Regions from separate parts of the Homo sapiens genome. Here region 2 is linked to region 1. The links come from fine-mapping of genetic effects on gene expression. A gene starts in region 1. The other region holds a variant in brackets. All regions are shown on one strand. Distances are from middle to middle.

Region 1 (4,406 bases):
CTAAAAATGGGCTTCAGGCTTGGAAAAACGTCAGGGGCCTTAATATGAAAGGACTTGACTTGGGGAGGTCACATGAAGATGAGTAGAACCAGTGGCCTATGAAAGCTGAGCCAAAGTCTTCAGATGACCTGTGGCCTCTTGAGGGAGCACCTTGTCATCCACATTCGCTGTTCTTCTTAATCCACAGGGTAAAGGCATTCTATGGAGAGATACTTGTGTAGCACCCCTTAGTTTAGCCTGTAAGACACTCACTTAGCTCCAAGAGTTTGCCAAGCACCCACCAAACATCATTATAAAGAAACAAGCACCTCCCTGTATTGTGATATAGAACAGTCTCCAAAATATATTGTTAGGAATAAAACAAAAAGTATAATAATTTATGTAGGATACCATTTTTATAAAAGAAAACCTATATAGATGAATATGTATCTATGTGTGTGTGTGCGTGTGTGTGTAGCCAATTTTTTTTTTTTTTTTTTTTTTGAGACACAGTATTGCTCTGTCACCAGGCTGGAGTGCAGTGGCGCGATCTTGGCTCACTGCAACCTCTGCCTCCCAGGTTCAAGCGATTGTCCTGCCTCAGCCTCCTGAGCAGCTGGGACTACAGGCGCACGCAACCACGCCCAGCTAATTTTTGTATTTTTAGTAGAGATGGGGTTTCACCATGTTGGCCAGGATGGTCTCAATCTCTTGACCTTGTGATCCACCCACCTCGGCTTCCCAAAGTGCTGGGATCACAGGCGTGAGTCACCGTGCCCAGCCTCCAATTATTTTTATATTTGTATGTGTAAAGAATGTCTCTGAAGGATACAGAAGAAGTTGGTGCCAATAATTGTCTCTGGAGAGTAGAAGGGTGTCTGAGGAATTAAGTGAGTGAATAATTCCTTATATTGTAAAGCCTGGTTCCTTCCAAACATTTTTATCCTGTGTATGTATTATATATTCCCAAAATTGAATAAAATAATATACATAAATATTCACACAATGTGGCCATTTTGCTTCTAGATAAGTTGTCTGCAGAAGCCCTCACTCATGTAAAAAGGAGAAAAAATGCAACGTTGTTTGTAAGAATGAAACACCAGAAACAACGAAAATCGTCATCAATAGAGAAATGAGTATGTAAAATATGAACTAGAATATAGCAATTAGATAGGTAGACTAAATAGATAGGTCTAGCATAAAATAGCATATCACAGTTAAAGGAAATGAACAGGATTGATCTATCTGTGGATTGATCTATGTGTATATCAACATAGAAAGGCTCAAAAACATGTTGAATAGAAAAAGGAACATAACATAGAATATATTTAGCATACAATTTAAGTGAAATTTTAAAGACACACCAAGTAAGACATATTTTAATTTTAAAGACACACATATAAAAATGGCCTGGAAGGATATTAATTCACCATGTACTTTGCCTTCTGGAAGGCAAGGTTGCGTGGGGTGTGGGGCTTCCTCCATATCTGTAATATTTTATTTCCTAAAAATAACTACAAAAATAAAAAACAGCAAGCAAATATGACAAAAGGGTTAAAAGTTTTAATTCTGAGTGATAGAAATATAGATGTTTGTTATTTTATTCTTTGTGTTTTACCGTATGTTAAACATTTCCAGATATTTAAATAAGAGTAAAGAAGACACATCCAGCCAAGGTCCTCCAGATAGATCCTTTTGCTTTCTTTCTAAAGTCAAGTAAATTCTAAACTAACCTTGACATTATTAGTAAGTTTTGCTTTAAAAAAAATAAAATTTTGTGTTAGAAGTTTTAAAACATTTGGAAATTCTAGTTGCGGCTTCAGATTTCATAATTCAGATGATGCAACAGGATGGAACCATTGTCAAAGAGAATGCAGGGACGTTTGATGCTTGTTAGGACATGACTCCTGTACTTGCCCATTTGTTCATCCTCCAACCCCTCTTTCTTCCAAATTCCATGTAGCATATTCTCTCCAGGAAGCAAGAAGACTTGCCTGGCGGCATACTCATTTTCCCCATGCCTCTTTGCTGTTTGTGGAAAATAAAGCATTCTATAGGCGGAGCTAGTGAACGCCTCTTTTAAAACACGAGTCTCCACACTTCCCTGTTCACTTTGGTTCCAGCATCCTGTCCAGCAAAGAAGCAATCAGCCAAAATGATACCTGGAGGCTTATCTGAGGCCAAACCCGCCACTCCAGAAATCCAGGAGATTGTTGATAAGGTGAGTTGATGCCATTCAGGAAAAAGTCTGAGCCAAAATCTTGATTCATAAGTTGTCCCTGTGGAAAGGCTGTGGTTGAACATGAAAACCAGAAGTTTAGGATGTTTGTGGCTTTGTTCAGGTTTCTTTACAACTAAGATGAAATAAGAGTTTTTCAGATGAAGCCTCAAATAATCCCCAAACTGTGAGTGTGACCTTGAGCAAATCACATTTCTTCTCTGAGCTTCATTTTCTCCATGGGTAAAAGAATTTGTATTGTATCTTCTCTAAAGCTCTTACAAGATATGATTCTAGAATTACTAATTCAGTTTCTGATGAAACTTTTCTAATCTCACCAAGTGAAGCCAACGTGTAATTGAAGTCTAAGGTTATTAACAATTTGATGAAGTAGTCTTGGAATGCACTGCAGGGAAAATTTTTTTAAATAGATTGAATGAAGAATAATATTGTAAAGGCAATCTACTTACAAACTTCATACACTTTTGCCCAAATAGATAGTGTTTTAGTCTTTTCATAGTTAAAAGGTAATTCAACTAATAGAACAGAGGTGACAGTCTATAGTGACTCCGAAATGTCATAGGGCACCAAATTATATATGGAAAAATAGAACTCAATGTTGTTAGCAGATTGATGTGTTTTTCACTTCTTCTTTTTTGTTTTGTTTTGTTTCATTTTTAAGAGATGGGGTCTCACTCTGTCACCCAGGCTGGAGTGCAATGGTCTGATCACGGCTCACTGTAGCCTCAACTTTTTGAGTTCAAGCGATCCTCCCCACTCAGCCTCCTGAGTAGCTGGGATTACAGACATATGCCACCACGCCTGGCTGATTTGGGGGGTTTTGTTTTGTTTTGTTTTTAGAGATGGCATTTCATTCTGTTGCTAGACTGGTCTTGAATTCCTGGGCTCAAGCCATCCACTCACCTAGGCTTCCCAAAGTATTGGGATTACAGGCGTGAGCCACCACACCCATCCCTGATATATTTTTCTTTGTGTGATTAGCTATCATCTAGCTATGTAGTAAACATTTATTTGCATATTTTATGAAAGGAAAACATGTACAAATTACTACTTTAGGTTTTTAGTTTGTTGCCTTATTTTCTTATATTATTCCTTCTTATTTTTTCTCTCTGAAACATCATTCTATGACAGCTTGGAAAACAAGATCAGCTTTTTGTGTGATTATAAGAGTTGGGATCCTGTATATTCTGGGAACTAGAAAGCTCTCTAAGGGGCCAGATGCCTAGAATCCCATCACTCATTCTTGGGGACTAATTATTTCTCTTTCAAGAGTTCTTTTTTTAAATAAATATCTTGGAGCTTTTTTCCTGGGAGATGATATTAAGTCAGTAATGTCTTCATGTGAATCCCCAGATCAGATCAATGTTCTCAAACTTGAATGTGCACATGAATCACCTGCACGTCTTGATAAACCTTAGATTCTGATTCAGGGGACCTGGGGTAGGTCTGAGATTCTGCATTTCTACCAGACTCCCAAGTGCTGCTGCTGCTGCCACCCATGGCCTTGCTTGCTGGCAGGACCAGAGATATATGGCATCCTACAAGGCCAGTGGGAGATGGGGCTTTAAAAGTCAGGGTGCAGGCTGGGCTCAGTGGCTCATGCCTGTAATCCCAGCACTTTGGGAGGCTGAGGCAGGTGGATCACAAGGTCAGCAGTTCGAGACCAGCCTGGCCAACATGGTGAAACCCCATCTCTACTAAAAATACAAAAATTAGCCGAGCATGGTGGTGGGTGCCTGTAATCCCAACTACTCAGGAGGCTGAGGCAGGAGAATTACTTGAGCCCAGGATGCAGAAGGTGCAGTGAGCCAAGATAGTGCCTGCACCCCAGTCTGGGCAACAGAGCAAGACTCTGTCTCAAAAAAAAAAAGGGCCAGGCGCAGTGGCTCACACCTGTAATCCCAGCACTTTGGGAGGCCGAGGCGGGTGGATCACGAGGTCAGGAGATCAAGACCATCCTGGCTAACACAGTGAAACCCCGTCTCTACTAAAAAATACAAAAATCAGCTTGGCGTGGTGGCGGGCGCCTGTAGTCCCAGCTACTCGGGAGGCTGAGGCAGGAGAATGGCGTGAACCCGGGAGGTGGAGTTTGCAGTGAGCCGAGATTGCACCACTGCACTCCAGCCTGGGCAACAGAGTGAGACTCCGTCTCAAAAAAAAAAAAAAAAAAAAAAAAGTCAGGGTGCCA
Region 2 (4,406 bases), 210 kb before region 1:
TGATTGCTTTTACCTTAAGATGGCGAATGTGGGGAGGATGTCTACTCTCTCTACTTTTGTTCCACATTGTACTGGAGGTCATAGCCAGAGAAACAAGACTAGAAAAAGAAATAAAAGACATACAGATTGGAAAGGAAGTAAAACTGTCTTTTTTCACAGATAATGATCATGCTTGTAGAAAATCCTGAGGAATCTATCAAAAACCTATTAAAACTGATAAGTGAGTGTAGCAAAGACACAGGATACAAAGTCAATACACAAAATCAATTATTTCTATATACTAACAAAAGCAATTGTACATTGAAAAAAATTAATAGCATTTATAATAGCATCAAATAATATTAAAAACTTGGAAATAAATTTAACAAAACAAGTACAAGGTCTATATACTGAAAACTATACAATATTACTACTGGAGAAATTAAAGTAAACCAAAATAAATGGAGACATAGGCCATGTTTATGAATCAGAAGACTAGATGTTAAGATAACCATTCTCTCCAAGTTGATCTATGGATTAAATGTAATCACAATCAAAATCCTGGTAAGCTCTCTAATAGATACTAAAAATCTTACTCGAAAAGTTATAGGGAAATGCAAAGAATCTACAATTGCCAAAACAATTCTGAAAAATAAGAACAAAGGTTAAAAATACAAAATTAGCCAGGCATGGTGGCGCATGCCTGTAATCCCAGCTACTCTGGAGGCTGAGGCAGGAGAATTGCTTGAACCCGGGAGGCAGAGGTTGCTGTGAGCTGAGATCGTGCCATTGCACTCCAGCCTGGGCAACAAGAGTGAAACTCCCTCTCAAAAAAAAAAAAAAAAAAAAAAAAAAAGAACAAAGGTGGACTTAACCTACCTAATTTCAATATTTACTATATATAGTAATTAATACAGTGTGATATTGGTAAAAGGACAGACATATCAGTCAATGGAACAAAATAGAGAGTCAAAAATAGATTCACACTGTTGACAAAGCTACCAAGGTAATTCCATGCAGAAAGGATAGTATTTTCAACAAATAGTGTTGGGACAATTAGATATCCACATGGAAAAAGTATGAACCTAGACACACACAAAGTAACTTATATATTAAGAATTAAAATGAAAGGACTTCCAAAAGAAAACAGAGGAGAAAATCTTTGTAACCTTAAGTTAGGCAAGTCTTCTTAGATAGGACACAGAAAGCAAAAACCATATCATAAAAAGATAAAATGGATGTCATCAATATGGAAAACTTTTGTTCTTTGACTTTGTTTAAAAAACGAAAAGTCAAACCACAGACAGGGAGAAAACGTTTGCAAAATATATATCTGATAAAGGACTTGTATCCAGTATATAATTACATATTGCTACTCATTAGTAAGAAGACAATCCATTTAATAAAAGGCAAGAAGAAGAGACTTGAACAGATACATAACAGAAGAAGATATACAGATGGCCGATGAGCACAGTCACAACATCATTAGTCATCAGGGAAGTACAAATTAAAACGATAATGAGATACCACTGCACACCCTCTAGAATGGCTAAAATTAAAAGGTCTGATAAACATCAAGTGTTGGAGAGGATATGAAGCAACTGAAACTCTCATATACTGCTATACAACCCAGAAATCCTAGACATTTACCAAACAGAAATTTTAAAAAATTTAAAAATATATAAAGACTCATACACAAATGTTCATAGCAGCTTGCTTCATAATACCAAACCTGGCATTCTAAATTTTCATCAGTTGGCGGTGGTATATTTATACAATGAAATACTGCAAAGCTATAGAAAGGAATGGACTACTAATAATACACAAGAACATAGATAAATTTCAAAAGCATTATGCTAAGTGAAACAATCCAGGCACAAGAAGAATACACATTATACAATTTCATGTATATGAAATTTGAGAAAAAGCAAAACTATTTTAAGTAGATTCATGGTTATCCATGGGATGGGGGAAAGGAATCAGCTGAAAAGCGAACTATTTTGGCTTATAAAAATGTTCTCGATCTTGATTGTGGTGGTGGTTACGTGACTATATATATTCGTTAAAATCACCAAACTCTAAACTGAAAATG[A/G]TTGGGTTTTATTATTTATTAATTATACCTCCATAAAGCTGATTGTTTTTATCTTTTATTTTTATTTTATTTCAATAGTTTTTGGGGAACAGATGGTTTTCGGTTACATGGATGAGTTCTTTAGTGGTGATTTCTGAGATTTTGATGCACCTGTCACCCGAGCAATGTCCACTGTACCCAATGTGTAGTCTTTTATCCTTCATCCACCTCTCTCTCACTCTTCCCCCCAAGTACCCAAGTCCATTATATCATTCTTATGACTTTGTGGCCTCATAAAAGCTGATTGTTTTTAAATACACACATACACACATAAAAGAGAACTTCCAGTGACAGGAAGTGTTCAAGAATGCTCTATTTAGTAAAGACAGAATCACAAAACCATCAGAGGTATTGTTGAGTGGATTCTTGTGGTCTATAAATACCTCCATGGACACCCAGGTTAGCAACCTGTTGGAGTTTACGTGGGACAATAGCATCATCACAACAGTCAGCCTAGAGAAATTTACATCCCAAGTTGTGTCAGTAGCAAGTCCCTATCAATAGCAACTCAGGCTTTGTGAGGTCTAGCTGGCTAGAAATTTCCCACTTGGCCTTGCCCATGCAACATTGTGTAATATTCTTAGCACCATCTGGCTAGCCGATTTAGGCATCAACATCTTCAAGACTTCTTCTCCTCCTCCTTATAAACCTTGCTTTCAGAAAAGGATTAGAAACTCTTCCAATCACAAAATGATTGCTAAAACTAAATATATTACCCCTCCCAATGGTATTTTTTGGTTAGCCAGGATAGAGATATAAGTGAAAAATCTATTTCCAGTGTTAGAATTTAAGGCACAGTGAGAAAGGGAAGGCATATACTTTTTGAATGCAAGAAACTTCTTCCCAATCCCCCTGAAATTGCATCATTTGAGTAACTATCTCTTCCATATATAAAGTCACAACAATTTCTCTCTCAGTCCCAGAACTTTGAAGCCTTTTCAAACTTTCCTTCTTTTGGTATCTAGGAGGAATACATTTTTGAAGATTGTTCTTGGTGTCTTTCAGGAACCAACACAATGGAGAGGGAAGAGAGTGAACAGACCAAGAAAAGGTAAATCCTGACCCTGAGACATTGATGAGAGAGAGGTATAATCCCCAGAGTGCCTGTTACTTGAATAGGCTTATGCCTAACATATGTTGAGACCTCAGCAAACCTGAACTAATGGAGAGGGAGAGGAAAATAAAACTAGTTAAGAACTGGAAGAAAATAACCTGATAATGGATGACAGGGTATCCAATGCACAATGCCCAGAAAGCATGACAAGCTCTGTCATGGTCAAGTAAAAGTCAATACCAAAGACTTCAGAGGTGGTGAACATGGGCTTCATCTTATCTGCCACAGTAACCCCAGTACCTGGCACAGTGCCTAGATTAGTGGGCATCCTACATGTGTGGAATGAATAAATGAAGAAGTGGGGAATGATAACATGTTTGCTTCAGCCTGAGCATCTTAGTATTTGCTATGGCCCTGTTTAGATGTTCTTCTGCCACTTCTTTACCTCATTCTTCAGATCTTGCCTCAAGCAGCACTTTCTTAAAAACCCTTTCCCAAACTAGAAAATGTCAACTTGTTACAGTGTCATGTGGATCCCTTGGCTTTTTCTTAATAACACCAGATTATGCTTACATATTTGTGTAATTATCTTATTAAACTCTATAAACTAGACTTAACTAAATCCTATGAAGAGCAGAGACCATACCAGTTAAGCTCATCATTGTGCTGCTAGCACTTAGCATGGTGCCTGGCATATAGCAGGTTCTCAATAAATGTTGAAAGAATGATTGATGCATGATGAATACATAAAAGTTCGTGGTGATCAGTCCTTTCACAACGTGAAGCTATCAGATAGTCTGTACCTCTATCCCTCCTGAGAAATTAAGCTCTCAGGAATATCAAGGCTCTGACTGCATACCCATAGGATCAAAGCAACCCTCAGTCACAAGCCTGGTTTCAGAGATAGGGTCATAACCCCCAGGGTGCAGAGACAACCGAGAGTACCCAGCACTAATCCAGATATACCAGCCACTGTGATTCTAGCAACAAAACTAATAATTCCGGGCACCCTTGGACAATGAGAAAGGGTGCTGAAATCCTGCCTACCCTGTCACACTCAGTTTCAGAAATGGTCTGGAAGAGCCTGCAGAGGGCAGGCAGCAGAGAACCGGCAGAGGGCATGGGAAGGGCCAGGCAGAAATAAAGGGTAGCTCTTGAAGCATAGATGACAGTGTAGACCGTGGTTCTTTTCTCTTGCTTTCTCCACCTTTCTCTTCAATAGTTTGTTTCTCCTCATTGCTG

The links. PIP is the estimated chance that this variant, and not a neighbour inherited with it, causes the effect.
Region 2: its variant is the best candidate, but not a certain one, in a credible set for the expression of CSTA in vagina (GTEx, PIP 0.81).

What each region holds. Positions count from the first base shown.
Region 1 is chr3:122,323,159-122,327,564 of GRCh38, forward strand. CSTA (cystatin A) reads left to right here and starts at 2,090. Exons shown (of 3, transcript NM_005213.4): 1 at 2,090-2,200. The coding sequence starts at 2,135.
Region 2 is chr3:122,114,933-122,119,338 of GRCh38, forward strand. CD86 (CD86 molecule) reads left to right here. Exons shown (of 7, transcript NM_175862.5): 6 at 3,116-3,161. Among named protein-coding and RNA genes, the nearest start is that of CD86, 62 kb to the left of the region's middle. The variant A/G (reference allele first, on the strand shown) is at 2,072.